4 linked regions of the Homo sapiens genome follow. The main gene of each other region encodes a partner of the protein of the gene in region 3 in a complex. Each region holds a gene or a part of one and is shown on either strand. Other genes may lie near its edges. A codon is read from its position in the direction of its gene.

Region 1 (7,492 bases), on a different chromosome or scaffold from region 3:
GCCCTGGCCGTTGGCTTCTCCCTTGCCCTGGGGCACCTCTTTGGGGTAAGCAGGAAGGAGAGCAACTTCTCATTCAAGGATTCCGGGGCCCCTAAACCTTTCCCAACTTTTAAGGGTTCTTCCTGCCTACTTCACTGTCAAACATGAACATTGTCCATTGCACTCTCTACTGGCACAAAGGAATCAACTCTGCCCTATCCCTCTCTTGTGACTGCTATATCTAGTCCTTCTTGACCCCAAGGTAGAAATGAACGTATCATGGCTAGACATGGGCTTTGCCTATGGATCCATAGTCTGTTCCCAGACAGGGCATCAGTTGCCCTCACCCCATTGCAGGAACCCCTGGAGAGTCATGCAGGCTGTCCCTCTCCACTTGCTGCTGGCTGGAGAAAAGATGGCAGCTCTCAGGGGCAATGTGGGTTGTGGGGAGAGAAGCTGGGGTGCAGTAGGGGGGTGTCTCAGTTACAACTGTCTCTTTTGCAGATGTATTATACTGGTGCAGGCATGAATCCTGCCCGCTCCTTTGCTCCTGCCATTCTCACTGGGAACTTCACTAACCACTGGGTGAGTGAAGGGAGAGGGGCAAGATCCTGAAGCCCTTCTGGATGGTTGTGGACTGCAGGTTCCAGGCTGGATTCCTGCTTTCCTTCTGCGTGTGTTGGCTGCTGTACCAGCACTCAGCTAAGGGGGCTGTCAGAGAGTTTGGCATGCCTGTGTGAGCAGGATTCATGATTTTGCTAGAAGGAGAGGCTCTTGCTCATATTTTTCCTTCTCTGGTTAGTCAGGGAGTATGCACTGAGTATTCACTGGTTGCTGAACTAGCGGGTATGAAGAGAGACAACTAAATATGAGCAGAATAAATTCTGCTCTCAGAGATCAAGATGTGTTGTGAGCACAGATGGGCCTCAGCCCCATTCCAGTTCTAATACGTTATCGGCTTTGTGTGTGACCATGGGCAAATAATCACTCTGTGCTTCAGTTTGTTTTACTATAAAATGGGACATTACGAGAAATGTGTGAAAGTTATATGTGAGAAACATTTAGCACAGAATCTGATATAAAGTAAGCACTCAATAAATATTGGTTATGTTGATGTTGTGCAAGCCAAACATATGGAAATAATTTAAAAATTTTTCAAAGCTGTACACCCATTTTCATAACAGCATTATTCACAATAGCCAAGAGGTAAAAGCAACCCAAGTGTTCCTCAGTGGATGAATGGATAAACAAAATGTGGTATATACATAAATGGAATATTACCTGTAAAAAGGAAGGAAATTGTGACACATACCACAACATGGATGAATCTTGAGGACATTATGCTAAGTGAATAAGCCAGTCACAAAAAGACAAATACTGTATGATTACATTTATATGGGGTATTTAGAGTACTCAAATTCACAGACGCAAAGTAGAAGGATAGTTACCAGGGGCTGATGGGGGTGGGGTGGAATAGGCAGTTGTTTAATGGGTATAGAGTTACAGCTTTGCAAGATGAAAAAGTTCTAGACATAGGTTGCACAACAATGTGAATATACTTAACACTACTAAACTGTACACTTAAAAACATATATATATTTTTTTGAGATGGAGTCTCCCTCTGTCACCCAGGCTGGAGTGCAGTGGAGCTTGATCTCAGGATCTCAGCTCACTGCAACCTCCGCCTCCTGGGTTCAAGCAATTCTCCTGCCTCAGCCTCCTGAGTAGCTGGGATTTCAGGCGCCTGCCACCACGCCCAGCTACTTTTTGTATTTTTAGTAGAGATGGGGTTTCTCCCTGTTGGTCAGGCTGTTCTCAAATGGCTGACCTTGTGATCCGCCCGTCTTGTGATCCGCCCGTCTCAGCCTCCCAAAGTGCTGGGATTACAGGCATAAGCCACTGCGCCTGTCCAAAAATATTTAATATGGTAAATTTTATATGTGTTTTACCACAATGTATAAAATTTTTTTGAAAGCAACATACAAACTAGTGCAAATTGATAACAAATAGAATATACACATGCTAAGGTGTGGGATAAAGGAGTAATTTGATGAATCAGAAAATAAATGGTGAGTTTATTGTAGATATCAAGTGTACAATATCTTGTTTTCCACTAAGGTGGCTGGAAAAAGAGCAGCGTTGCTACTCTGTCCCCTCCCCAAGCCTGAGTATTCCTTTTCTCTTTCTACAGGTGTACTGGGTAGGCCCAATCATTGGAGGGGGTCTGGGCAGCCTCCTGTACGACTTTCTTCTCTTCCCCCGGCTCAAGAGTATTTCTGAGAGACTGTCTGTCCTCAAGGGTGCCAAACCCGATGTCTCCAATGGACAACCAGAGGTCACAGGGGAACCTGTTGAACTGAACACCCAGGCCCTGTAGAAGCTCCAGCTGAATAGAGGGAGTAGAAAGCTTCTGAGTTTACGTGGAGGGGTTTAGCCAGCCCCTAGATGAAGAAAGAGACTGTGGGGAGGGTCATGTACTTCTTTATTTTTTAACTTATGTATGTGGTTGTTTTTTTTTTTTTTTTCCTTTTGCTGTGTGAAATCTTTCAAGTTGCATTCATGAGCTGGTTGGTGCAAACTTCCCTTCCTCCCCATCCCACCACCCTTCGCCGTGTGTGCTGATTGTGCATATGAATGTGAGTGTGGCTGTGTCTGAGTTTTGGGGCATGAGAGCTAAGGAAGCAAAAAGAGGTGCCATCCTATACCTCCCTTCCTCGACCCAGTATGGTGAGTACTGGGTAACCGACACCTTAAGTTTCTGGCCTTTACCCTGCTGCCAGTCAAGTGTGTGGCTCTTGATTTCTGAGGGAACAGAGAAGCAGGGAGTTACTCCTCACACGAGGCAGATGGAGAGAAGTGGAGGAGACAAGGCTTCCAAGGGTTAGGAGAAGGGACTCAAGGGAGGTGGGTGGTGAAAACGGAGTATTAGCCCCAGATCAGGATGTAGGTGTACCGAAGAATTGGGGGGAAGTTAATGGGAATATATAGCCTACTTATCTTAGGGATGCTTGCCCCAGGGACTTGGGTGGGGAAGTAGCTCTGAGAAAAGTGAACACTAGGATTTAGCTGTTCTGTAAAGCCACGTAAACCTGTCTACATCCGCTGGCTGGTTGTGTTCATTCTGACATAATGGATCTCTTCAGAGGTCCTGGGCCAAAGAGCTTCCAACCTAAATAGAGCTTGGGCAAGCCTAGAATCTAGAAAAATTAAGCAGCTTAACTGGTCAGCCTGACATCCACTGTTGTGGCTGCCTGGCAGATGGTATTTAAGCCCCACAATTGTTCCCTAAGGCCAACACAGGAAATCTGATTCCTGGAGCAAATAAATGAACGGGTGGTAGTAGGGGGCATGAGGGGAGAGGCTTTGACTCTGTTCTAATTTATTTAGAGCAAATCAAAACACTCCTCAAATGGCATCTTTCTGCTTTTATCACTAGTTCCGTGTTTTTTTTCTTGTTTTGTGTCTGTGTATTTTCATTTCTCTGTCATCCGTCCTTTCATCTTGAAGCAAATCTCTTCTAACTCCCTCATACCCCAGAAATTGATTCCTTCTATTCAAATGCTTAATAATTCAGGAGATTATTATTTGTTTGAGCCCTATCTTCTTTTTTTTTTTGAGAGGGGGTCTTACTATGTTGACCAGGTTGGAGTGCAATGGATATTCACAGGCACGATCATCGCACACTACAGTCTAGAAATCCTGGGCTCAAGCGATCTTCCTGCTTCAGCCTCCCCAGTAGCTGGGATTACAGGGGGCCAGAGCACAGCCCTATTTTCTTTTCCTTTTGGCAAGATCATCTCAGCAGAGGCCAGAAGAGACCCTCAACTGTTCAATGAATATTTACGGTTGCTTTCTTCCTTTTATGAGCCTCTTGCATACTTTGAAAGCTTTAAATTTATACCTATAATACAACGGACATCCCCTATCCCAGAAGACCATTCCTCCCTGTACTTCAGCTCTTTACTTCCTCCCAAATAAAACCTAACTTTTCTAACTAACTATTTAAGACTTGGAATAGTCCGCTTGACTAGAAGAAGGGGAAGAATGTTTGTAAATTCACCTCTAATCGGACTTTGATTCTACTATAATTCAGCAGAAAATTCATAGCGCTGTGATTTTTAGATCGACCTCACATAAAACAGTCCCTGCACTCGCTTCCCTTTTCCTTCCTTCTTCACCAATCTCCGCCCCAGTTCGCTCGGAGTCACGTGGACCAGCCCGGCTCGCCCCGCCTCGCTCTTCGCGCAGGCGGGGACCGGTCCAGCTGAGCCTGGTGGCGGAAAGGCTGCGGCCCCGCGCCAGAGGGCCGGTGGCTCCTCCGGGCTTCTGAGGACCCGCAGGGAGCGGGTGAGTGAGTGTGTGGCGAGAGGGCGCTAAGCGGACACGGGGATCCTTTCGAAGCTATGGGGGCATTCTCGGGAAACGCTGAGTCCCTTTTCCCGCCACCCGGTTTAGAGCCAGGGGGCGGGGCTCGTGCTGCAGGCGCGCACGCGCAATTCTGTACTCTGCTCCTTAGTCTCCCGCGCCGCGTTCCCGGGTCTCACCGGACGCGGGCTTAGCCCTACGCTGCTCCGCACAGCTTGGGTCTCCCGCGGGATGGGGTTGTGATGGAAAGGGGCTTGGAATTCCTGAATTAGAACAGAAAGTGCCTGAGGGAGTTCCACTTCGGAGCTTAGCATCTAGTTGAGACCTCCTGAAAAAAACCGGTGTGTGGCCTGGCGGTCAGCAGTGGTCGGAATTCACAGGCCGCTTTACTTATATCGTGGGTTTTATGGAACGGATTTCTCACTCCCTCCCTTCGTTGCCTTGTTCGGGTTTGTCACCTGGACCTCAGCCGCTAATGAAGCTTTTTTCCTTGAGCCTCTCAATTCTTTGCCATTCGTGCTTCGACTAGTACTTTCAATTTTTTATTTATTTTATTTTATTTTGAGACGGAGTCTCGTTCTGTCGCCCAGGATGGAGTGCAGTGGCGCCATCTCGGCTCACTGCAACCTCCGCCTCCCGGGTTCAAGCGATTCTCTTGCCTCAGCTTCCTGAGTAGCTGGGATTACAGGCGCGCGCCACCATGCCCGGCTAATTTTTGTATTTTTTTTAGTAGAGATGGGGGTTTCACCTTATTGGTCAGGATGATCTCAAACTCCTGACTTCGTGATCCGCCCGCCTCGGCCTCCCAAAGTGCTGGGATTATAGGCGTGAGCCACCGCGCCTGGCCTGTTTGTTTTTTTTGGTTGTTTTGTTTTGTTTTGTTTTTGAGATGGAGTCTGGCTCTGTCGCCCAGGCTGGAGTGCAGTGGTCCGATCTCGGCTCACTGCAACCTCCGCCTCCCCAGTTCAAGCGATTCTCCTGCCTCAGCCTCCCCAGGAGCTGGGATTACAGCTGCCCGCCACCACGCCCGGCTAATTTTTGTATTTTTAGTAGAGATGGGGTTTCACCATGTTGGCCAGGCCGGTCTCGAACTCCTGACCTCAAATGATCCGCCCGCGTCGGCCTCCCACAGTGCTGGGATTACGGGTGTGAGCCACCACACCCGGCCCTACTAGTACTTTGTACAAAGTAAAGGTAGATCATCTGATGTTAAATTTAAAACTCCTCTTTGACCACCCACAGTTAGCCTTAAATCCGTAGGTGGGTGTCTGTGGCCTCTCAGTCTGGCCCTGACCCTCTCAATCTCATTTTGTAAATCTCTTACGCACCTGACTCCTGGCCACGTGGAAAGATTGTGGCTGCCCTCTTTCATATCTCAGTACTTAGTTCCTGCTGTTCCTTCTGCTTGGAAGATCTTGACACTGCTCTGCCAAGCGAACTTCTCTTTGAAGACTGAGCTTAATTGTCCCTCTGAAAATCAATGTATCCAGCTTCCTATGCCAAGTTAGTCACTTCTTCCTGTGTGTCCCTGAAGTTTTTTACCCCCCTCTATTACCAGGGGCACTGATACAGCTCAATAAAAGATCAATAAAAGGTTACTGAGCTCCTAACATGTACCATGCACTGTGCTTAGCGCCAGGCTTACAGAGATGAGTAGGATGGAGAGTTCCCGACCCTTAAGGAACTCAAGTCCTAAGGAAAACACATGTAATTGAGTCTTCTGTGGTTACAGTGAAAGGGTCATCAAGAAGTCCTTCCTGGCTTCCTTCCTCCTCTCACTGCACTCACACCATCTTACATCCTGATGCCTCCAAATCTTTAGCTCCAAACTCTTCTCCCTCATCTTCCAGACTTCTCTGTTTCAGTTCAATTTAGTAAAGCATTTATTGAGCACTTACATTGTGCTGCGTAATGATGATTCCTGATGTGAAAGAGTTTACGTTTTCGTGCAGTTAACATAGGATAGTTAGAATCACCTGAGGAACATTGTCAAAACACTTGCCTAAGCCCCATCGCTGGAAATTCTGATCCTGTAGCAAGGCTCTGAAAGTTCAAGGGTGAATAAGAATTCCTATCTCTACTAAAAAAAAAAAAAAAAAAAAAAAAAAACAAAAATTAGCTGGGTATGGTGGCATTTTCCTGTAATCCCAGCTACTTGGGAGGCTGAGGCAGGAGAATCACTTGAACCCGGGAGGCGGAGGTTGCAGTGAGCCGAGATTGCACCATTGCATTCCAGCCTGAGTGACAGAGTGAGACTCGTCTCCAAAAAAAAAAAAAATAAAAAGAATTCCTGTCCTCAGGGAATCTAAGGCTAATGGAGGGAGATAGACTTTGATTTTAACTATTATATACAACATGAATTGTAAGTACCATGTTGGAAGTCTGAATATGGTACACAGTAGACATTAAGGAAAAGGAGGTCACTTCTGTATGGAGAAGTCAGGAGGAAGTCCCTTTTGGGCAGTCTTTTTTTTTTTTTTTGAGATGGAGTTTTGCTCTTATTGTCCAGGCTGGAGTGCAGTGGCGTGGTCTCCCAGGTTCAAGCGATTCTCCTGGCTCAGCCTCCCAAGTAGCTGGAATTACAGGCACCCACCACCACACCTGGCTAATTTTTTTTATTTTTAGTAGAGACAGGGTTTCACCATGTTGGCCAGGCTGGTCTTGAAGTCCTGACCTCAGGCGATCCATCCGCCTCAGCCACCCAAAGTGCTGGGATTACAGGCATGAGCCACTGCGCCTGGCCTGCACAGAGTCTTCAGAGCTAAGCTGATATTTGGATGGGAGGCCATTCTAGATAGAGTAGTGGCTTGAGAGAGAAGCGTGAGAGGTAAACAGGAGAGAGATTCATGAAAGACTTTGTATTGTAGGCACTGGAGGTCACTGAAACTTTAGTTTTGTATAGTAATGCATGCTAATAGTAAAGAATTCAAATAGTACCAAAGGGAAAGACAAATATTTCTCCTATCCTAGATCCCCTAGTTCTCAGAGACGATCACTATGAAGTTTCTTATGTATCCATTGAAGTGTTCTAAGCAGGATTGTTATATGCCTAAATCAGGTAACCATATTGAGGCTAGATTGAACAAGACTGGAGGCAGCTGCATTCATGCCTGTAATCCCAGCACTTTGGGAGCCCAGGTGGGTGGGT
Region 2 (7,681 bases), about 12 Mb from region 3:
GCCTTGCCAGTGGCCTAGTTTCCAAAGCTGTAATCACTTTCAAATTGCTCTTGCTTAGAAGCCTAAGATTTCCTTAGATCTGATTTTGGTAAACCTAGACTTCTCTAAACAAGATTTCTTAGCCACCATCAGGAAAGACTTCCACATCTAGACCCACTTGGGCTCCTCTCGGCAGTGACTGTCCTTCCTCGGGCCATCACAAAGGGCCCTCCTATCAGTGCAGCCTTGGTTAGAGTGAAAAAACACTACAGATAGAACAGAAGGTTTAAGAGAGTAAAAGTAAAATTTAATGTAGGAACTTCAAATGGTCTTTTCTTTGCAAAGAGCTTAAAGTATGCCAGAGTACCAGGGCACTGACAACTCCTTTGTTTTCATGAACTCTTTGTGAGGCAGAGGCAGAGGCGAATTTCCTACACTCCACCCATCAATGAGGGCCAGCAGAGGGGACCTTGATCTGCTCAAGGTCACTGAGCAAGGCTATGGCAACACACGGTCCAATTGGCTCAGAGCTTCGTTGTCAGGAAGATGCCATCATTCTATTTGCATTCATCTTCACTGAGTGCTTGCTAGGGAGAGGGCCTTGGAGAGGGAAAGGCCAGACTGAGTGTTACCTGCTGCCAGCGTCCTTACCTGTGCAAAGAGTACTACGAGGCTATCATTGTCAGGGAATCCGAGATGCTTGGAGTAAAAGTGATGGAGAGCAGCTATGTCACTCTGAATCAAATCCTTCTTCTCATTGTCTAACTTATCCAGATCTGTGGATAAATAATCCATTATTCACCCAGTAGAAAGCGTGGGATTTCTAGCTACATCCTATTTTTGCTGTAAATGATACAGAGGAAAGGAACGGGCGAAAAAAAAAAAACCCAAAACTAACATGTTGAACCCCCAGAGAACATTCTTCCCCATTACTTGGTTTAACTGACAAACCCTAAGGAAAGAAAGCAAGCCATTTCTTCCTTCTCTCCCTCTGATGACTAGAAGTCACTTGGGACGTGAGATTTCGACTGACTGTTAGCAATGAGGTCAGGGATGGGTAGCAATGACTCATAACCAGCCTCAGCCTAGTCAAGGGCCCCCCAATTGGCCCGGGAATCTGGGCCGTGGTCAAACAACTGGACAACCCCTGATTTCACGGCTTTCAGTAAGAACATCAGCTATTTAGAGGACGCAATTCAGCAAAGATCCAAAAGTATTCAGCATGCCAAGAGGGCCAGCAGGAGGTAGCTCAGGGTGCAATAATTCATTTTGGGAGCTCCTACCTCCTTTAATTATTTCCTAACAATCCTGTCAACTCAGAAGAAAAAAGCTAAAAGTGCTTTTCGAAACAGCACAAGAGTAAAAATAAAAACTAGTAATCAAAGAAATCACTACTCCTCTGAGCACAAACTAGCCCGTCCTCGCTTCAATCCTGCCCAACCCATGTGAAATCTGTGGCTGAGAGAACTGCGCGGCTGGTCACAGAAAGACTTACGTGATTCAAACTCCTTCACAGCTAACAATTTTTCCGAAGGTGTTCTCTCTGGGTGGATTTTCTAGCAATTGGGGAAGAAATCACACAGATACAGATTTTTTAACAACCAGTGTAATAAAGTGGCACTTTCACTTTTACATCAACATAAAGAAAAAGTAACAATTCTTAAGGAAGTAAAACAAGCTACTCAAGGACTCCACCACTAGGGCTCTCCACCAGCCAAATCCAAAGACTCTTCTAAAGCGCTTTTTTAAATGTCTACCGTGTACCTAACACCCTGATAATACTATGCACACAGTAGGCTCAGAAATACCTGTTACGGGAAAGAACAGGGCCGGAAAACAACTTTTTAGGGTCCTTACTTAAAAGGACTGGGTCTACAGACAAACCATCCTATTTATTATTTCTCCTTCTAAAAAGGAACAAAATCAAACCCCCCATCCATTTTACACTTTCTTTAAGCATAGGCTAAAATGATCTCAAATTCTGTGTTTCAAAAAGAACACTTTTGGTTGTATCTGTGAGCCCAGATTCACTTTAAACGCGTTGCTGGCTTTGTTCTAGACACCCCAAGAGGAGCTAACAATAGTAAACCCGCTAGGCTTTGAGAACATGAATAAACTTGGTGTTGACAAGAGTTCAAAGGCAGAGCTCAGGAGCTGGCCCAAGGCCATGTCTTTGTAATGTGGCTATTCAATTTGGGGATACAGGTGGTCTAGCAGGGCACGCTCACCTCCCTAGTTAACATGTTAAGCCTCCCCTTGGTAGTTTGGTAGCCTGTCTCCCCTAATCCTTTGCAAGCTACTAGAATACAAATGGTCTGTTTTTTTAATCATCAAGTCCTATAGAGATGAAAAGATGGGCAGGTAACTTTCATTTAATACACTATTAGTAGTAGTAGTAATTATAATAAAACTTGAATGAAGCTTGTATAAACTCATCTTTGCATTCAGACTACCCTCCTGGTGCCGAAATATTTCAATAGTTCTTTTTTGGAGCAGAAATCTTCCATTCACGGGATGCATTTTTATAAGATTTATAAGTCATCTCGCTTGGGAAAGCTTTTCATTCAGGAAAGTCTACCAGCCTCTTCTGAATTCTTAACATATCACTATAAATATCATCAATAATTCAGGGGAACAAAATAATAAAACACCAGCTTGGCCACCCAATCCTCCCAAGATGTGCGGAGATCCCATCTGATGACTTACTGACTCTGATACCTCACACCCAGTCATCCTATTCCCTCTGACTTATTCAGCCCAAATACTCTGCATAAATTTAAAAATAACTGTTATTAAGGATCCGAAAGTTAACCTCCTGCAGGGAAACAATTCTGATGTTTTGGTCTCACTCTACAGGCAACCCATGAATGGCCTTTGTTACTCTCGGCTGGCTGGCGAGGTAGCATTTCGGCAAGCACCTGACCCAAGCTGAACATAGCTGAAGGATGACCTCAGAGTTTTGAAATGTTCTACTTCTGTTTACACAGCCCAGGATCCTAACTTGGTCTGGGGACAGATACATGCTAATCATTTCCATCACATTTGGCTTAGATTAAAAAATAGAAAAATTTTAAGGGTGGAGGAGGGCTGGTAGGTATACAGGAGAAGTGGATGAAATTTCAGTTTGTTTTTTTTTTTCATTTTTAGAGACAGAGTCTCATTTACTTTGTTGCTCAGGCTGGATGGAGTATGGTGGCACAATCACAGCTCACTGCAGCCTTGAAGTTCCGGGTTCCAGTAATTCTCCTGCCTCAGCCTCCAGAATAGCTGGGACCACAGGTGTATACCACCACACCTGGGAAATTTTTTTAATTTTTAAAATTTATTATAGAGAATGGGTCTCACTTTGTTGCCAAGGCTGGTCTCGAACTCCTGGATTCAAACAATCCTTCTGCCTTGGCCTCCCAAAGTGCTAAGATTACAGGTATGAGCCACTATGCCCAGCCAAAATTTCAGCTTTAAAAGATTTATAGTCCAGAGGCCCTGCCACCAACTTCTCTGACAGCACTGAGGAGCAAGACCTCCACAGCCTGGACATATGCCTTCTAAGCCCCACACTGCCTATTTCATTGGATCACAAGGACAAGTTCTATGGCATTTTCCTGTCCTCTTTTTAGTTTGGCCCTTCGAAGATTAGGTGTCTAATTATTATGCAATCAGCAAGAATGAACCAGACCAGGCGGAGAACAGTCAGTACGGTGGCTAAAGCAATTTCATCTTGGATGCTGATATACCATGTTGATTTCTGGTTAACTCCTGCTCTGGGAATGCTTCTAAGATTTCTACTTTGTCTATGGCTACCTTAAATCCTGCCTTAGGTCAATACAATCTTGAGCACAAATCTTGCTCTCAGGCAGATTTGCATAGCATCCTTGCCTTTCCTTGTAACTGCTGTACACATTTCTTCCCTATGGTATATAAGCCCTGGCTCTGGTGGGTAATGGTGCAGGGATCCACCATCTTGTCTTGCTGCCGCCCAAGACATAGACATGGCTTCAGTTCATAAGTCCTAGTAAATGTTTCTAATAAACTGGATTTGTCAGCTTCTTTCTTCTGTCTCTCAGCTTCCTCACTCTTTGAGCGTAAGTTTGCATAGTCCTGCCCACCACAGAATAGTCAGAGTTGGCATCACTTCTGGAGAAAGCCATTGATGACTATCATCTGTTTCCATCAAGGGCACCTCTTTCTTTCCTTCTTCTTCACTTTTTTTTTTTAACTCTCTTCCCCTCTCCCTTGCCTCTATTTCTACTTTTCCACTCTTTCTCTTCTTTGCACATGTCATAGTCAAGGCTGTTCCATCCAATTCTTTGCCTGCCTATGCACAGGCAAGAAAGGAGCCAAGAAAGAGCAGAATATTACACAGGAAAGGGGAACAGAGTACACTCTTTATGTCAGAATGGAAAGAGAGGAAAATCTCAAAGCTGCTCAGACCAATCTGGTTCCCTAGGAAGCTCTAATTATTTGAGGTCAGGCTTTTCATGTCACGTATTTCCATGTAAACCTGTCATGAAAACAGCTCAGAATTTCAGAGCTGTGGCTATGCTCCTGGTCTAGGGTAAGCAACATCCTAATTGCACAGGGCACACAACTAACTAGATTATGCCTGGAGTATTTTCCCCACCCCTGTCCATATGGATATGATAGGAAATGTAGTCTAAGGATGTTTAACGAGAGATGGTTACCAAAGGTCAGTTACTCATCTTTCTGACCTTTAAAAGAAAAACAAAATAAAATGCACTTGAACATTGTCCCATTTCCTCACCTGTTTGGCCAGAATCCTTGCTGTTAGTCTTACAGTCTCCGAGGGATTCCAGTTTTCCCCAAAAACAACCATGGGAGAACATTCCAGCTTGTGCATGGGCCAATCTTCTTTCTGGGAAGATTGAAAAAAACATTATTAAAAAATAGCACATACACTGGAATAAAGTGTGAGAGGAGAGGATGCAGTGAGTCCCCCTAGTTAAGGTCAAGTAAAATATGTTTCCTTTTGGAAAACACGAGGATGCTCACAAAAGCTAGAGATAAAAACATCCTTTAAGATAGGCAGGATTGTATGACCTTCACTCAGGCCTGGGTCAAGCTTGTTGGGATGAGAAGATCTACTTTGTGTTTTTTCCTCAAGCACCTCATGGCTTTCTGCAGCCCCTCATTATTCTAAACAACACATACATCTTTCCATCATCTGTGCAAGCTGTCAAATTGCAGAGGGAGCAATTTGAGTATCAGCCATTGATTTGGCTTTGTTGCCTCACAGTTCCGCTCTGGCTTTGTTCTCACGTCAGGGCAAATAATGGAGAGTTGACTTACACAGCAATGAGTCCCTTTTACAGGCGACTTTTTAAAAAGCACAAATGAGGGTTTCATGAAGGGCAACCACTGGAAAGATTTAGGAATAGTTAGGACTTCCCAAAGATGCACTGGATAAAACAGTAGTATTCTTTCTTTCCTTTTTTTTTTTTGAGACAGAGTCTCGCTCTGTTGCCAGGCTGCAGTGCAGTGGCGCGATCTCGACTCACTGCAACCTCTGCCTCCCGGGTTCAAGTGATTCTCCTGCCTCAGCCTCCTGAGTAGCTGAGATTACAGGTGTGTGCCACTACGCCCGGCTAATTTTTGTATTTTTAGTAGAGACGGGGTTTCAAGATGTTGGCCAGGATAGTCTTGATCTCTTAACCTCATGATCCACCTGCTTCGGCCTCCCAAAGTGCAGGGATTACAGGCGTGAGCCACCGTGCCTGGCCTAACAGTAGTATTCTTTCTATCATACGCCCTGAAGTTTCCCTGCCCCGGGTAGAGGGATGAAGGATATTTGCTGCTGGAAGGGTGGAGGCGCCATCACTTGAGATGGGGAAGGCATTGAGAGAAGGACACCATGGTGTTTTGGAGGCTGAGGGAAGCAAGTACTTTGAGGACTAGGGAGTAAATGATGATGCCAGTGCTGGAGATAGGCTTAGTGTGAGAGGACGGAGAATGTGATTTGGAATCATGGAAGCTTGATGATTTTCATAAAAACAAGTTTTGGTGGGATGATGGGGTAAGAAATGACAGGGAGCAGATTCAAGAAAAAATGAAAGGAGACACAGCTTAGAGTAGTGAAAAGTTGCGGGGGACTTTTTTTTTTTTTTAGATGGGAAATATCAGAGCACGTTGTATACTGATGGAAGCCCTTACACACTGTCTCTTTCACGATGGAATTGGGTACTGTCCTGCTCTGTCCTTGGCCTTCCCTAGCTCAGAAAATGGCCATAAATGCTCAGGGCAGGGAGGCTGACATGGGCGGATCACCCGAGGTCAGGAGTTTATGATTGGCCTGGCCAACGTGATAAAACCCCATCTCTACTAAAAATAAAAAAATTAGCCAAGTGTGGTGGCATGTGCCTGCAGTCCCAGCTACTCAGGAGGCTGAGGCAGGAGAATCGCTTGAACCCAGGAGGCAGAGGTTGCAGTGAGCCGAGAGTGCACCGCTACACTCCAGCCTGGGCAACAGTGTGAGATTCTGTCTCAAAAATAAAAATAAATGCTCAGGCCAGAAAGCTAGAGTCATCCTTGACGCTGCTCTCTCACTCACACTCCACATTCAGTCAGTTCTGGCAAATCCTCTGTCTCTGCCTGGAATCTGATCACTTCTTAGCTCCACAACCTTTCTACCCGGCTGCAGCCCCAACATCTCTCATGACTAATGTCCTGCCACTGCCTTCTAACTGGATGCCCGCTTCTGTCCTTGCTCCCATGGACTAGGTTCCAGAGAGCAGCCTGAGGGATTCTGTTGACAAAACTCGGATCAGGCCAGTCCTCAGCTCAAAACCTAATGGCTTTTCTCATCCAGGCAAAAGGCCAAGCGCTAAAGGTGACCTAGGAGGCCACACGTGATGGGAGCGTCCCTGCACCACCCCAGCCCATCATCCCCCACCGTACTCTCACCTGCCTCACTGCACTTAGCCACAGAAGTGTCCTGGCTGCGCCTGGAGCCATGTACCTGCCTCAAGGCCCTTCGCACTTGCTCTGTTTTGTGGCTAGCACTCTCCTCCCCTGGATATCCATGTGACTCCCTCCCTCCTCTCCAGCCGCTGCTGGAATGTCACCTTCTCAAGATACCTGCCACAATCACCCTGTCAGAAAGAGCACTTCCCCATCATTCTTCCTTTCCTTGCTTTCTGCTGCTTCTTAGTACTTCTCACCACCTGAGCATATTATATATTTATTAGTTGTTTGGTTTAGTATCTGTCTCTCCCCAGGAAAATAAAGAAATTTTGTTTTGTTCATAGCTGTAACCCCAGAACTGACAACAGTGCCTGGCATTTAGTAGGCACTCAATATAGTTGTTGAAGGAATGAAGATATCTCCCTACCCGCTTCCCTCCACACTGATCCCCCAAGAAGGAAGCACATAATGTCACTTAATGATTTAATGCAGTCTATGGTGCAGCCCCTTAGCTCAAGTTCTGGGCCAAGATGTTCTGCAGAGTTAAATAATGCCGCGCCAAATATAACTAAGAGCAGGGAGGAAAAGAAATGACAAGATATGCACAAGGGAGAAGAGAATCTGTTTTTAGCCAAAGCCTAAAATGAGAGCATGGTGATGAGGCGAAGAGGTGGGAACAGGTGGGTCTGTCTCCCTGCAGACTAATCAGCTCCCTCCTCAGCTGCAGAGCAAAGAGGAAAAGACAGAGATGACCCTCGGGATACCTGAGAGGATATGGGGACCT
Region 3 (8,146 bases):
AGCCTCCTGAGTAGCTGGGATTATAGGCATGCACCACCATGCCCAGCTAATTGTTTTGTATTTTTAGTAGAGACAGGGTTTCACCGTGTTAGTCAGGCTGGTCTCAAACTCCTGACCTTGTGATCCGCCTGCCTTGGCCTCCCAAAGTGCTGGGATTACAGGCACGAGCCACCATCTCTTCTTTCCACTCCTGATCAATCTTGACAAAATATAAAACCAAACCAAGACAAATCAACTTTGTAAAATAAAGATAAAGTTGGAGGTCTCACACTTTCTGATTTCAAAACTTACTATGATGTGGCGTTGGAATAAAGACAAACATATAGACCAATGGAACAGAATAGAGAGCCCAAAAATAAACCCTCAACATATATGGTTAAATGATTTCAACAAGGGTGCCAAGATCATTCAGTGGGAAAAGGACAGTCTCTTCCACAGATGGTGGATCTCCACATGCAGAAGAATGTAGCTGGACCCATACCTTACACCAAATGTTTGTTGTGAGTTTATTTACTTTTTTGTGTGTGTGGAGACAGGGTCGTGCTATGTTGTCCAGGCTGATCTAGAACTCCTTACCTAGAGACACTGCCAAGGTAAGTGAGGGCCAAGTGGACACTGAGTGATTCTGTGCCTCACTGAGCAAAAATAACTAAACATGGGCGAAGGAGAGCCCAATGATCCCAGGGACAAAATGTCATCACGGGCATTCTGCGCACGCTTGCCAGGATACAGGAGAAGCAACCAGACACTTCATTCATCTTCTCAGAATGTTCATTAACATGTTCAGAAAGGTGGAAAACCTTACTTGCTAAAGAGAAGGAAATTGGAGGCATGGCCAAAAGTATTCAAGGCCCTTTATGAAAAAGAAATGAAAACTGATATCCCTCCTAAAAGAGAAGTAAAACAGAAATTCAGAGATTCTAATGCACCCGAAAGGCCTCCTTTGGGCTTTCACTTTGTGTTCTGAGTACTGCCCTCAAATCAAAGGAGATCCCGGTCTGTCCACTGGCAGTGATGCCAAGAACCTGGGAGGGACATGAGTGACCATGCTGCAGATGGCAAGCAGCCCAAAAAGAAGGCTTCTCAACTGAAGGAAAAGTACCAAGAGCAGAATGCTGCATATCCAGCCAAAGGAAAGCTGATGTGGCAAAAATGATGCTGTCAAGGCCGAAAAAGGCAAGAAAAAAAAACAAAGCGGAGAAAGACAGAGAAGGTAAGGAAAATAAAAAATGAAGTCGATGATAATGACAAATAAGGTGGTTCTATGGCAGCTTTTTTTTTTTTCTCTTGTCTATAAAGCATTTAACCTACCTGGACACAGCTCATTCCTTTTAAAGAAAAAAATTGAAATGTAAAGCCACCTAAGATTTATTTGTAAACTGCATGATGGCGTTCTTTTTCTGTTTTTGTATTATTAACAAGAATTATCAAGTAATTCTTCAGACAACCCTGTCCTGGTGGTATTTTGTATAGCCACCAACTTTGCCTGGTATACTATAGGGGTTATAAATCAGCATGGGAATTTCAAATTTAAGGCACAGTATAAGTTAGTTATATACAAATGTGAAGTAACATTATTAATTAAACTGTTGGCCTGTGCGAAGGGAGGGCCAACTGTGGGATTCAGTCATTCATTCAACAAATATTGGTGAGTGCCTGACACTGTTCCAGGCACTGAGGCTATTGCAACAAAACAGACACAAGCTCCTGCCCTCATGGAGCTTACATTCTGGTGAGGGATACAGAGCCACCAAAAAGGATGGCAGCTGGGCCATGAGAAAGGATCAAAGTCAGGAAGTTAGAATTCGGGGATGGATTGAACATGGGACAAAAGAGAAGAGTCAAGTTGACTACAAAGCATTTGGCCTAAGTAATGCAAAGAATGGTGGGCCATTTCCTGAGATGGGAAGCACTAGGGTAGTTTTGGACATAAATGGAGATGCATATAAGCCATCCAAACTGAAATATTGAGAAGGCAGTAGGTGATAGTTGGCTTTCCTTAGGTTCTAGGGCAGGAATTCTTAACCTTTTGTGTGTGTGCCTAGGACCCCTTTGGTGGTCCATGAAGCCCTTTCCAGAATAAATATTGTGGAGGAACCTACCTTAATGCAATAGTAGCTTCTAGGTACATTATCAGGCAAACTATCCCACAAGTTACAAAACAGAAAGCCTCACAGACCAAATTATGATGCTTGAATTGCAGGGTTTATTGAATCAGTTTAAAACCACTTACAGCAAGAACTCGATGGGGTGCATAACATACACAGGATAGGGTACAGGCGAGGCAGATGGACCACACCACCAGAACCTAGAATTAGGGAATCCTCCCCTCCCCTCCCCTCCCACCCCTCCCCCCTTCCCCCTCCCCTCCCCTCCCCTCCTCCCCTCCTCTCCCATCCTCCCCTCCCCTCCCATCCTCCCCTCCCCTCCCCTTTTCTCTTCTTTTCTTTTTTTGAGACTGTCTCACTATGTTGCCCAGGCTGGAGTGCAATGGCGTGATCTCGGCTCACTGCAACTTCCACCTCCTGGGTTCAAGCGATTCTCATGCCTCAGCCTCCCGAGTAGCTGGGATTACAGGCACGCACCACAATGCCCAGCTAATTTTTGTATTCTTAGTAGAGACGGGGTTTCACCATGTTGACCAGGCTGGTTTTGAACTCCTGACCTTAGGTGATCCACCCGCCTCAGATTCCCAAAGCGCTGGGATTACAGGCATGAGCCACTGCACCTGGCTAATATTGATATGTTTTCCCTCTCTCTGCCGCATCAGCCTGTCCCACTGACAGAGTTGAGGATGCTCAAGGCGGCTCAACAGAGGGTACCTGGAGCAACTCACACTGCACTATCAGAGAGACACAAGTGCAAGCACACTCAGCCACAGCTGCAGCTCACCAATCAGCCTGCTGAACAGACCTGAACTTTAGCTGCATTTTTGGGGCAGAGCATATGGGTGCCAGGATGGGACCATAATCTTATCACCAATGAGTGGCCATTTAGGGATGATATAGTTGTCAACCCAGAGATGGCATGATCATGCCTTTTGACTTGGTCATTCTCTAAGTAAAACTTTTATTTGTTCCATCATATTTTCCACTTATTCTGTTTACCTTCAAAATATCTTTTTTTTTTTTTTTTGAGACAGGGTCACACTGTCACCCAGGCTAGAGTCCAGTGGCACTATCATGGCTCACCACAGCCTCAACCTTCAGGGCTCAGGTGATCCTCCCACTTCAGCCTCCCGAGTAGATGGGACTACAGGCACCTGCCACCACCCCCAGCTAATTTTTGTAGAGACAAGGTTTTGCCATGTTGTCCAGGCTGGTCTTGAACTCCTGGGCTCAAGGGATCCGGCCACCTCAGCCTCCCAAAGTGCTAGGATTATAGGCATGAGCCACTGTGCCCAGCCTACCTTCAACGTATCTAACTGGTTACTAACTTTTAGGATTCGGCCTATGTCTCACAACCTTCTTGCTTACTCAACATCCTTGTCTCTTAAGCCACTAGCTTCTTCTCTATGGTTAACACTTTTTATGAGTTTTATTCATCTGCTTATTTTTCTTATCCTCTATACCAGAATTGAATATTTTCAAATAAAGCACACTCATGTTACAATCTTTGAAATGAAAAAAAAAAATGCATAGGATTAGAAAAGAAACCAATTTTAATAAACTATATTTTGAAGTATAGTTCTATATTAAACAACAAGATCTAGGCCAGGTGCAGTGGCTCATGCCTGTAATCCCAGCAATTTGGGAAGTCGAGGTGGGAGGATTGCTTGAGGCCAGGGGTTCAAGACCAGCCTGGGCAACATGGAGAGATTCCCCATCTCTTTCTTTACACACACACACACACACACACACAAAATATCTGATAGCAACAGGTGCAGTCATTACCACAATTTCGAGTAGTGATGAGCTTAATAATATTTCGAGTTATCACCAACAACTGTAAAGTAACATGAAAACGTCTGTGATGACTATTGCCCACAAAGTCACAGGTACTGCTAATACTCCTGGTATTTGTAGTCAAATTCATAATAAAGGAAATGCTAGGTTTCAGTTGGTATTTTGTCCCGACGGTCTGTGGACGGCAGGTTAGAACGCCCGTCCAAGCCAGGAGGGTGGACCTAGCACTGCAGGGTCCACCTCGGGCCAATCAACTATATTCCCGAGGCGGGGGCCTGCGCTTCCCGGACCCAGCTGCCCTCAGGGGAGAGAGGACACACTTAAGAGTTTGGGGCCGGCGTGGTAGCTCATGCCCCTGATCCCAGCACTTCGGGAGGCTGAGGCGTGAAGATCACTTGTAGCAGGAGTTTGAGACCAGTCTAGCCAACTTGGCGAGACCCTGTCCCTAAAAAAAATTTTTTTTTAATTAGCCAGTTGTGGTGAGCGCCTGTAGTCCCAGCTACTCGGGAGGCTGAGGTGGGAGGATCGCTGGGCTCAGGAGTTCCAGACTGCAGTGAGCCATGATGGCGGCACTGCACTCCAGCGCGGTGAGACTCAGTCTCAAAAATAAAAGGGGGAGGGGTTGGGGGTAAAATTAGTTGTGAAATCAAGTAAGACTTCCTGGGACAGAACAATCAAAGGGGTGGCGCCGGGTCCTCCAAAGAGCTACTAGCTCAGCCCAAGCCCCGCCTCGGCCCCCAGGGCAGCGGCCCGCAGAGCTCCACCCGGCAGGCGCCCGGGAAACTCCGCCCCCCGGCCGGCAGGGGGCGCGCGCGCCGCCGGCCCCGCCCCGTGGACGCGGGTTCCGTGGGCGTTCCCGCGGCCAGGCATCAGCAATCTATCAGGGAACGGCGGTGGCCGGTGCGGCGTGTTCGGTGGCGGCTCTGGCCGCTCAGGCGCCTGCGGCTGGGTGAGCGCACGCGAGGCGGCGAGGCGGCAGCGTGTTTCTAGGTCGTGGCGTCGGGCTTCCGGAGCTTTGGCGGCAGCTAGGGGAGGATGGCGGAGTCTTCGGATAAGCTCTATCGAGTCGAGTACGCCAAGAGCGGGCGCGCCTCTTGCAAGAAATGCAGCGAGAGCATCCCCAAGGACTCGCTCCGGATGGCCATCATGGTGCAGGTGCGGGCCGCTGTGCGGGCGGCGGGGCGGGGACGCGGCGCCCCGGGTTAACTGTGTCCGGGAAGGCTGGGGGAGGGCGGGCCCAGGGAGCGAGCGGGCCCGGGCCCTCGGAGCGGCACTTGGGGCCTATGGGGCCGCGGCCGCCCCTCCTCCCGAGCGGCCCGGCCGACCCTTCCGGAAGGTTTTGCTGATGTTGCAGGAAAAGCCCGGGAAATAAAGTCTGCAGCTGGTGTTGCCTTTCGCTTTGTGAAAACGAGGAGCCTCTTCTCTTCTCCTTTCTGGGTGGCGGTGTTTTATTACTGCCGTTCGCCTCAGGGGTTGGGGGGGAATTGTACATGGTCTCTTTAAGCTAATCTGATTTTGACCTATCTTGTTCTGGAGGGTTTTTGTTCTACATGGATGGTGGCGACTGACATGTGGGTTTTTTTTTTTTTTGTTAAACCTATTTTTGGCAGTCATTTCAACACGTCATTTAAACGCTCACTCTCATTTTTTATTTTAATTAGGCAGAACTATGCAGAAAGGTGTCATTTCTGTACAGTACATTCACTTTGAGCCTAATTTGTGCTTTAAAGTAACATTTTCCCCAAATTTTCCAGATTCACAGACGCGTTCTCTTGGTGCATTTGCAGCTGTCTGGTTTGAGTAAGAGTGGCTCCAGGGGGGTTTCTCATGTGGGCTTTTTGATAGATTGAATCCCCTTCTGAGGTTTCCTGAGCCTTCTGTGAGGTGGTGGGCTTGAAGGCCCCTGTCATTTCCCAGGGGCTCCTGCCTCCAGCTTCCAGTTTGCCGATGTCTACCTTTGTATTAATAATTCTGGTTCTCATCTGCCCTGTTCCTCCTCGCTTCCAACATATTACCCAAGCTTAGTGCTCATGGTCAAGGTAGCTTGATTTTCCTCCCTTCCATGAGCTGTAATGTGTTTTAGGAATGACCAGATATCCCTCAGTGGATTTTCAGTACTTAGTACAAGGGAGGGCGACATTTACCGAGTGGATACCCAAGTGCCAGGTGTACTTCCGTTATCTTATTTCACAATATGCCTGTCATCTTGGTGTCCTCGGGGCATACCTAAGTCAGTACGTGGCACACAGTGCTTATTTGGTAGGCATTTTTTAAGTTCTAAGCACTCTGTTAGGTTTTAAGGACACAGAATCCACCTTTGGGAATTTCCAGTTTGGTTAAACGGGAAATGACTGGTAAACAAACGTTACCGTAAGAGAGGATGGATGCCACCTGATGGAGCTGTGCTCTAGGCATTGTGTGCCTAGGAGTCCGAGATGACCCAGCTAAGGGTGGAAGCTTGATTAGGAGTCGTTAATTCACAGAAGTGGAGCAGAAAGATGAGAATAGGGAAGTAGACAGGGCCTACAATTTGAAGAGCCTTGTTGCCCACTAAGGAACCTAGAACTTACTTTGAATATACAAGGCAGCCTGTTATGAAGTTCTCACTCCTGGTGCAGGAGCTCTTAACCCAGGGTCTGTGGGATGGTAGGTAGAAGGCAAGAGGTCCATGAGTTTAGATAAGAAAAAATTGATATCTCCATCTCCACTAACCTCTAGATAAAATTATTTCCTCTAATCATAAATGTAAGCAGCAAAGCAAAGGCATATTAGCAGTCCCTATTTTTTTTTCACCAGTGATAATTACAGATATTTTCATATCACTTTACAGTTGGAAGTTTTTCAAAATATAATTTACTCTCATTGCTACAAAAATCACAGTTATTAGAGGCTGTACTAGATCTTGTTATTTAATGCTTAAAAGCTCACGGGTTACTGTACCCAAATTACCTTTCAAATGTTTTGATAATTATCTCAGTGTTTCCTTTTCGAGCCTTTTTGTTTGTTTTGTTTTTTGAGATGGGGTCTCACTATGTTGCCCAGGCTGGTCTCAAACTCCTGAGCTCAAGCGATCCATGCACCTCGGCCCCACAAAGTGCTAGGGTTACAGGCATGAGCCACCGTGACTGGCCATTTGCGAGCCTTTTTATTACGCATTTTTAAATGTTATTCTGAGAAAGGGACATCCAGGCGCCTTAACAGGTGGGCAGAGTACCGTGTTCTGGTGGAAAGACAAACAAAACCCAAGTCCAGACTGTGTTGAGGCTAGAACAACACCGCTGTGGAGGAAGTTAGAGGAGGCTTAGCTGTGGGGGAGGCCGGATGGAGGAAACTGAACCTGATCAAGTTTAGCATTCTGGGGCCGGGCTTGGTGGCGCATGCTTGTAATCTCAGCACTTTGGGAGGCTGGGGTGGGCAGATTACTTAAGCTCAGCAGTTTGAGACCAGCCTGGCCAACATGGTGAAACCTGTCTCTACAAAAAAATGCAATGATTAGCGGGTCGTGGTGGTGCGTGCCTGTTAAGTCCCAGCTACTCCGGAGGCTGAAGCTGGAAGATTGCTTGAGCCTGGGAGGTGGAGGTTGCAGTGAGCTGAGATAGTGCCACTGCACTCCAGCCTGGGCGACAGACCCAGACCCAGACCCAGACCCTGTCTGAAAAAAAAAATAGTAATAACAACATTCTGGGCTTTCCTTTGGTATACTTGATAGTGAAAGAAACTCTTTATTATTAAAAGTAACTGTGATTTTTATGTAATGGTGATTAAGGGTGGATTCAGAGTTTTAATTCAGAATTTAAAGTTGGTCTGGTAGACTGAGCTGGTGAAGGCCAAAAAGAAAGAAGCCTTTTCACTTGCTTGAATTTAAATACCTTCTTTTACATTTACATGGGAGTATTGTTCTCTGAGTATCTGATACCTGACACTTTAGCCCTCATGCCTGGGGCATCTTGGGAGGGATGAGCTGGGCCCTCCAGCATTTTGGTGGGAGGAGGATGGCGGTAGACCTTTGAGTTGCTCTGTCCTGGGAGGGTTTGAGCACCCGGAGGCATGCAGTGAGGTCAGTTCATTCTCTCTGTGGCCTAGGTGGACAGGTAGCATGGCCTGTTCTGCACAGAAGGGAACCCAGTTCACCAGCTGCTGGTTGGGTGAGGACCCTGGTATGTTAGGTGCTCAGTTTTTGCTTGGGTGCACAGCCAAAGATTCTGTGCCTTGCCTCAGCTGTGCAGCTAACAAATGGAGTC
Region 4 (7,681 bases), on a different chromosome or scaffold from region 3:
TTTACTGCAAATTTGTATGATCAAATCACAGGGAACAACAGCCCTTTAAAGAGACAGTACTAAAAGAGGTCAAAGAAAAGATAATCTACTTGTATTTGAAGTGATAAAGTTTGCTTTCTTCATTACAATGCAAACTACACAGCTGCTGACAAATAAAATGGCTTCAAGTCATGTCTGTGGCTGATATAGCACAGACTGGCTCACTCACCTCTATTCCAACCCCTTCCCCATGAAAGTTCACTGCATTTCCCATACTACTCTTTAGCTCAGGCTCCACATGGGACCTATCTTCTTCCAAGCAGCTGCAATACTTTGAAATCTCAGAGGCAGAAGAGATACCACATGGAGGCTGTGCTTCCACGATCTCCATCAATGAGCACAGCTGTAGAGGCATCTGATGGTTCTGCAGCAGCTGTAGCTGAGATCCCAGCACCTGGTTCTTAGCTTCACGGGGGCTGAGAGGCAAAGAGTAGGGCATCCATTTACCTGGCCCAGATTATACCAAAGATAATGTGGTCCTAGAGCCACTCACTGTGGCAGCAGTTCTCGAATTCCCAGCTCCCTGATGGTGGCAGAGACAAAATCCACTGTGAGCCACACAACTGTCATTCCTGGAAGCTCAGCCTGCTCCCTCAACCCTTCCAAGGATATAATGACCACCTCTTTTTACTTTATTAAGCCTTTCTGTTTGAACCATACATAAGAAATAAACTCTTAACAGGTGTTTAAAATCAGATGTCTAACAAAACTGTTGATGTTGCCATGGAACACCTGAGGTCAAGTATTATTTTCGTTAAGTAAAATAGTTACATAAGAGGTGTATTTTTTTGGTGAAGAGGCACAAAATAACAGTATAGATAAGACTACCTGCAAAAGTCATGGAAATTATCTCTAGAAATCTACAATTATGGGCTTGTCTCAAATCCGCTTTGTTTTTTTTTTTGGAGATAGAGTCTCACTCTGTCACTCAGGCTGCAATGCAGTGGCGCAATCTCGGCTCACTGCAACCTCCGCCTCCTGTGTTCAAGCAATTCTCCTGACTCAGCCTCCTGAGTAGCTGGGATTACAGGTGTGTGCCACCATGCCTCCAGCTAATTTTTGTATTTTTAGTAGAGATGGGGTATACCCATGTTGTCCAGGCTGGTCTCGAACCCCTGACCTAAGCGATCTGCCCACCTCGGCCTCCCAAAGTGCTGGAATTACAGGTGTAAGCCACTGTGCCCAGCCCCTCAAACCCCCTTTGTAATGGACTAATGTAGTATAAACATTGTAAACAAATATAAATTAAAATATTCTTACTTGACTGCAGCAAATACATTATCTCCATTTGGAACAATTATACAATTTTTCTTTGCTTCATTTATACCAACATATACAGGAAATTCATCAGGAGAATCCCTGTGTAAGCAAAAGACATTAAAAATTTAGCTGCCCATAATTTATATTATCAGGCAAGTGGGATTTCAGGTCTACAGACAACAATTTACACCTATTTTTTTTCCTTTTTGGAGGCCTTTTTTTTTTTTTAATCATACCAGAATTTATCGATTACATCAAACAAAAATTTCTGTAATGGAAAAGGCAAGTTGCAGTCATAAAAGATGGCATTCACATTCATTTTAGAAAGCAACAACGTAGATGTAAAAAATTGTTTAAGTGAAAAATGTAATATTGCAGTCCCATTTTGCAAGCTGAAAAATTTTGTCAACACACATAAAATCTGCACATTTACATACTGCATGTTAAAAAATTCCATCACTAAAGTATTATAAATATTGCAAAGTTAGGCTTAAATTTATACTGTTGCTGGTGTATATGTAGTAGATATGGAATGAATGTTTTCAGTTTAGTAGGTAGCATCCTCAAACAACGGACAACAGTTGTGAAAATTACAAAGACATTTCAATAGCTCAAAATTATCCAAATTATAGGTACATCGTCCTATTATTACACTTTTTTCCCTTTCTCTGTCACAAATAGGATGATTACATTGTAGTGGTAGGAATACTGCATGGTCTACTTCAAATTATTCGATCTGCTAACCCCACACTAGTCATTTTTCATCAGCTCCTCAGTAAAATATCTTTTAAAAAGGAAAGCCAGGTCCCTCCCAAGGATCTAGGTTGATGCCTTTTTTATAAGGGCATTTTTAAAAAAATTCAAACAAATTTGCCAGTTTTAAGCTCCAAGTTTCTTAGGAATATCTATGATAAATCTTATATAATGGAACCTAAAACTAAGATTCTTAGGACCTAGTTGCTTTTATACTCAAATACAAAAAAAAAAAAAAAGGAAAAACAAGAAAAAGGATTGTAAAACATTAGAGATGAAAGGATCCTATTCACGTATATAACCAAACCTTTTATTTTAAAATTGAGGAAACAAATACCGAGAGGTTAAATTACTCAGCCAAGGACCTAGTAAGTTAGGACCTTGGCTACAGTATAATTCAATTCCTAGCCACATGTGCATTCTGCTGTACTACAACACTTCTTCCTGGGCACGTTCCTTCTATTACCTTACATTTAATCTTCACTTTAAAGGATAGCATTTCTACTGGTACAAGCGGACAAGTATTTTCCTCCTGGAGTTTCTCTATTTCTAAGTATTCTGCATGCATTCATTTAATTCTCATAATATTCCTATCAGGTATGTACAGTTATCCCTATTGTTACAAGACAGGAAACCGAGTCACAGAAAGTCACAGTCAGTAATGATACAGGGTCACACAGATAATAAACAAGAGGACCAGTGTGACTCCAGAGACCACTCTTAACTACCAGTTGCCACTCTGGCACACGGCTTATTAAGCACAGCTGCTCTAAATTATCTTTCTTGGGCCAAAAGAGCTCTTCTGAACCCAAAAGGGAAAAAAAGTTTACAAGGAAAGGAAAAACAAGTGAGATTAAACCTAAAGAGTTTACCCATCCTAGGGAAGGTTAAAACGGTAACAGCAAGAACAACAGATGGCTCATATATCCACCAACAGGGGAAAATATGCCTTTCACCTTGGGTGAGGCTAGTGAATAACTATTTATCCTCATTAGCAGGACAGCAGCTGTATTTTAGAGGCGAAGAAAAGATCCTTTACCTGAAATACCCCATGTGGTACTGAGTTTTATTATCTCCAATAATAATGGTCTGGAACTCAGGAGGATCATAGTAAAACCTCCAGTGAAGGTTAAAATTCAGGCCTGTTGATTTTTTCTTCGTTTTATGTTTTCCAGCAAGGATATCATAAGGACCAACTAATTGAAGTCCAAGGCTTGCAGAAAGTGAATCTATAAAGAAAATAAATTTAGACAATACTTTCTGGAGACAGGTAGGAAATAATGCTTTTATTTAGTAAACTATTTCTAAGCAATTGTCTTTAAAAAGTTTCTAAACTAAAAAAATCTTGAGTTATGTGTGAAGATGTCAGTTATAAACATTCAATGGAAAAGAAGTCAGAGTAACAGGAAAAGTGGTATTTACATTTAGGATTTCCTCTTAAATTTACCACTGAATTAGCCTAACATTTCAGACATTCCTGTTGTTTCTTATTTTGGCCAAAGCAAGACTGGTTTGTATTCCTATAGGCCCATTACCACACTGCAGTTAGCCTCAAATACTTGTAGTACACACAGGTTAAGGGAGAGAAAGATAGCAAAAATGTGTGGATTAAGAGTAGTAAAAAACAGGCCAGGTGTGGTCGCTCACACCTGTAATCCCAGCACTTTGGCAGGCTGAGGCGGGCTGATCACCTGAGGTCAGGAGGAGACAAGCCTGGCCAACATGGCAAAACCCCGTCTCTACTAAAAATACAAAAATTAGCCGGGTGTGGTGGCTCACGCCTGTAATCCCAGCTATTGGAGAGGCTGAGGAACAAGAATCACTTGAACCCTGGAGGTGGAGGTTGCAGTGAAACGAGATTGCGCCATTGCACTCCAGCCTGGGTGACAGGGTGAGGCTCTGTCTCAAAAAAAAAAAAAAAAAAAAGGTAAAAAACATTTCTATCCCCTTTCCTCTACCTCAGCTAATCACACCAGATTCCCCTGACTCTTTGACAATCTATTTGGCCAACCCTAACCCTGGATGACTCCATCTTCCTTCTCTATTCACGGATCACAGACAGGGAGTGTTCATAAACCACAAAGACATGAAGTCTGTGCAAGTGTACAATGCATAACTTCAAATGGGTCCTTACTTCTAAGATGGAGGGAAGCACCCCAGACAGGACCCAGTTTTATAAGGAGGGAAGGATGAAGAAAACAAAAAAATTCCTGGAAGAGGTAATAACATGAATAGAAGCATGGAGATAACTTGACAGGAAAAATAGTTCAGCTTAACTGAAGCTTAGGAGAGCATACACTAATTTTTAAAGCATGAAGAAAACTAAAACCATCCATCTCATTAGCCGAAGATAACAGTTAATAGTCTATTATACAGTAACAAATTTCCATACTCTCCACCCCCATGAACAGATACAAACATGTAACAAACTGAGAAGGGTTGTTTTGTATTGTAATCTGCTTTTGTCCTCCATCCTGTCCCATTTAAATGTTCTGAATATTTTTCCATGCTATTCAATGTTATTTGACATGATTTTTTAATAGGGCATAATACTGCATTATAAAGAGGTAACCATCTATTCTCTTACTGAGGGAAATTTACTATTTCTTTTTTCTGTTCTAAAATGTTTCAGTGAACATCTTTGCTAATAAATGTTTGTATACAGGCATGACTTTTTTTTTTTTTTTTTTTTGAGATGGAGTCTCGCTCTGTCACCCAGACTGGAGTGCAGTGGTGTGATCTTGGCTCACTGCAACCTCCGCCTCCTGGGTTCAAGCAATTCTCTGCCTCAGCCTCCCAAGTAGCTGAGATTACAGGCACCCGCCACCACGCCCAGCTAAAGGCATGACTATTTTTAAAGAAACAGCTACACAGTTCTGTTCTGATCTACTGGCAAAATTCAGAATATGTATCAATACACATTTCCATCAATAGTGTATGACAGTGCCTACTAGTTAAAAAATTTAAATAGTATAGTGCAAAGTAATGAACACAGCCCATTAACAGTTTCTTTATCCTTTCAGAGACAAAATAAGCACACAGAAAAGTATACAGGGATATGTGTGTACTCTCTCTCCCCCATGCTATTTTTAAAAAAATACTAATGGTAGCATACTCTATACACTCTTCTTTTTCACTTAACATATTTCAGGCATGATAGTTTATTATTTCCTAAAAATCTGCTTCATTCTTTTAAAACAATGAAGATCTACTGAATAGATGTGGTATTGGTAGGCATTTAAGCCATTTCCCATTTTTTCTTTAAGTAAATATCCTCAAACATAATTCTTAGTTTATGTAATCCATAAGACAAGTTCTTGGAAGCAGAACTGTTATAACTCCTGCAACACATGAAAGAGCTTGCTTTCCTTCACATTCCCCCAGAATGTGATGAAATTACCTTTGCCAATAAACTAGGTGACAGTGGCATTACTATAGCATTAATCTATATTTCTTTCTATATTTTCTCTTACTAGAAGAAACATCTTGGAAAATATTTGTTTTCTATGAACAGTTTATATCCTTGGTTAGGTTTTTTTTTTTTTTTTTTTTTCTGAGACAGGGTCTTGCTCTGTCACCCAGGCTGGAGTGCACTGGCACAATCTCGACTCACTGCAGCCTCTGCTTCCCAGGTTCAAGCAATGATCGTGCCTCAGCTTCCCGAGTAGCTGGGACTACAGGTGTGCACCACCATGCCCAGCTAAATTTTGTATTTTTAGTAGAGACAGGGTTTCACTGTGTTGCCCAGACGGGTCTCGAATTCCTGACCTCAAGTGATCTGCCTGCCTCAGCCTCCCAAAGTGCTGGGATTACAGGCATAAGCCACCATGCCTGGCCAATTATTCTATGTTTTAGAGACGGGGTCTTGCTCTGTCACTGAGGCTGGAGTGATCAGAGCTCACTGCAACCTCAAACCACTGAGCTCAAGGAGGGATCCTCCCATCTCAGTCTCCTAAGTAGCTAGGACTATAGGCACATGCAACCACGTCTAGTTTTTTGTTTTTGTTTTTAATTTTTTTGTGGAGGTCTCACTATGTTGACCAGGTTGGTCTCAAACTCCTGGCCTCAGGCAATCCTCCTGCCTCAGCTGGGATTACAGAGTGTGAGCCACCACACCCAGCTGGTTTCCTATTACATTACTCTTTCCATTAATACAAGAATGATTCTGGAGCAACTCACCAGATGGCTTTTCAGGATCAAGTTCTTCACAGAACTTCCAGAAGTGATAGAAATCTTCAGGTAAAGAAAGCTTATAATGATTTTCTACTTCTTTTCGAAGGTCACTGGAGACATCAGCTTCACAGAATTTACTTTTCTTCACATCAGTTGTTTTTTCACACTGAAAATTGGCACACAAACTTTAGTTCTCCAAATTTCAGTAACTCTCCTTGCATAACAGTATCTATCACTCTTGTTCACCCAACTCTATGAAATACATGTGTTTTCCTTAAAACTCTCTAAATGGTCTTTGAGTAAAATCTGGGAATTCATTTGGGCACAGGAAAAAAGAGTAGTTTATATGGTGGTTAAGAGGAATCCACACAGCAAGTCTTTAAATATATTTTTGTAAGATAATGGAAACCACAAAAAACAAAAAGGTAAAAAAAAGAAATAATAAAGAGCAGGAAGAGAGGAATAAAGAAAGGGCAGATTTTGCCCTCTTTTGGTTAAAGGTGTGAGTCTTTTAAACAGATTCATTGATCAAATGAGAAACAAATAGAAGTAACTGGATATAAGCAATTCATCAGTTAAAAAGCTGTTTCTTTAGCAACTTCTAGAGTTGTGTCTGAGCTATTCACTACAATCATTACCCAGCCTTAAAAACAGATACCTCCCTTTTGATTTTCCAGATAAAGAGGGAAGGTTAGTGACAATGTTAAACATCTATAGTTCCTAATAAAGTTAGCAGAATAGCACTAAACTCTGGGCCAAAAATCCAATTATTTCAGAAAAGGCCTTTTAATGCCAGGATGAAGTTATAATACTCATCTCTAGGACCACCACAATACAGGTTCATTATATAAGTATACTAGGTTTTATAATGCCTACTAGATATTTGATAAATTTCTGTAAAGACAATATGCTTAATTGGAAGTTACGTATGTTTAGTTTTCTAAGCAGCAATCTGTTTTTCTATGAACCTAGATTCTTTCTTTTTGGATTAAGTTCTTTCCTTTTTATTCTTCCTACCTAGAGCAGTGGTTCTCAACCGGTGGTGATTTTGCCCCCCAGGGGACATTTGGAGACCTATTTAGTTGTCACCAATTGGAAGAAACGGTGCTAGTGGGGCAGAGGCCAGGTATGCTCAACATCCTATAATGCCCAGGATAGGCATCCTCAACAAAGACTACTGGCCCCAAATGTCAACAGTGCTCAAGTTGAGAAATTCTGAGCTAGATGTTTCTCATATTTATATATTTTTTTATTTTATTATTATTATACTTTAAGTTTTAGGGTACATGTGCACAATGTGCAGGTTTGTTACATATGTATACATGTGCCATGTTGGTGTACTGCACCCATTAACTCGTCATTATTAGGTATATCTCCTAATGCTATCCCTCCCCCCGCCCCCTCATATTTATATTCTTCTATTTTCTCAGTAGTCTGAAGTTTATTAACGTTAGGT

The links.
Region 1: the proteins of PARP1 (region 3) and TIMELESS are in contact, whole or in part, in a crystal structure (PDB 4XHU), measured with the Homo sapiens proteins. Residues at the interface, in NP_001609.2 of Homo sapiens: Gln846, Lys849, Pro850, Phe851, Leu854, Arg878, Ile879, Ala880, Pro882, Asn928, Lys940, Lys943, Gly944, His946, Tyr992, Asp993, Ile994, Ala995, Gln996; in NP_003911.2 of Homo sapiens: Asp1036, Gln1040, Pro1043, Val1045, Pro1046, Leu1047, Thr1048, Glu1049, Glu1052, Glu1053, Glu1056, Ser1074, Gly1075, Gln1076, Glu1077, Thr1078, Phe1079, Arg1081.
Region 2: the proteins of PARP1 (region 3) and SMYD2 are in contact, whole or in part, in a crystal structure (PDB 9CKC), measured with the Homo sapiens proteins. Residues at the interface, in NP_001609.2 of Homo sapiens: Thr526, Leu527, Lys528, Gly529, Gly530, Ala531; in NP_064582.2 of Homo sapiens: Thr105 (codon at 4,777), Leu108 (codon at 4,768), Val179, Asn180, Cys181, Asn182, Gly183, Phe184, Thr185, Glu187, Leu191, Ser196, Ala203, Met205, Tyr240, Ile241, Asp242, Ser257, Tyr258, Asn380.
Region 4: the proteins of PARP1 (region 3) and HPF1 are in contact, whole or in part, in a crystal structure (PDB 6M3I), measured with the Homo sapiens proteins. Residues at the interface, in NP_001609.2 of Homo sapiens: Thr825, His826, Asn827, Ala828, Arg865, Met890, Lys903, Asn906, Tyr907, His909, Ser911, Gln912, Gly913, His934, Lys953, Ser983, Leu984, Leu985, Tyr986, Glu988, Thr1011, Ser1012, Leu1013, Trp1014; in NP_060337.2 of Homo sapiens: Asn234, Val236, Asp261, Arg264, Leu265, Phe268, Gln272, Glu273, Thr276, Phe277, Gln279, Phe280, Asn282, Asp283, Glu284, Cys285, Tyr287, Tyr304, Lys307, Val308, Gln311, Leu315, Leu319.

The regions. Positions count from the first base shown.
Region 1 is NC_000012.12:56,446,144-56,453,635, reverse strand, and holds the start of TIMELESS (protein timeless homolog), read left to right. Parts: upstream 1-4,209; 5' UTR 4,210-4,326; intron 4,327-7,492. Other genes in the region: MIP (lens fiber major intrinsic protein), read left to right, coding at 1-45, 484-564, 2,171-2,356. UniProt on the Homo sapiens protein: Plays an important role in the control of DNA replication, maintenance of replication fork stability, maintenance of genome stability throughout normal DNA replication, DNA repair and in the regulation of the circadian clock.
Region 2 is NC_000001.11:214,311,933-214,319,613, reverse strand, and holds part of SMYD2 (N-lysine methyltransferase SMYD2), read right to left. Parts: intron 4,853-7,681; coding exon 4,742-4,852; intron 1,536-4,741; coding exon 1,475-1,535; intron 756-1,474; coding exon 631-755; intron 1-630. UniProt on the Homo sapiens protein: Protein-lysine N-methyltransferase that methylates both histones and non-histone proteins, including p53/TP53 and RB1. Specifically trimethylates histone H3 'Lys-4' (H3K4me3) in vivo. The activity requires interaction with HSP90alpha.
Region 3 is NC_000001.11:226,404,724-226,412,869, reverse strand, and holds the start of PARP1 (poly [ADP-ribose] polymerase 1), read left to right. Parts: upstream 1-4,776; 5' UTR 4,777-4,940; coding exon 4,941-5,060; intron 5,061-8,146. UniProt on the Homo sapiens protein: Poly-ADP-ribosyltransferase that mediates poly-ADP-ribosylation of proteins and plays a key role in DNA repair.
Region 4 is NC_000004.12:169,747,445-169,755,125, forward strand, and holds part of HPF1 (histone PARylation factor 1), read right to left. Parts: intron 6,392-7,681; coding exon 6,232-6,391; intron 3,282-6,231; coding exon 3,092-3,281; intron 1,399-3,091; coding exon 1,300-1,398; intron 1-1,299. UniProt on the Homo sapiens protein: Cofactor for serine ADP-ribosylation that confers serine specificity on PARP1 and PARP2 and plays a key role in DNA damage response.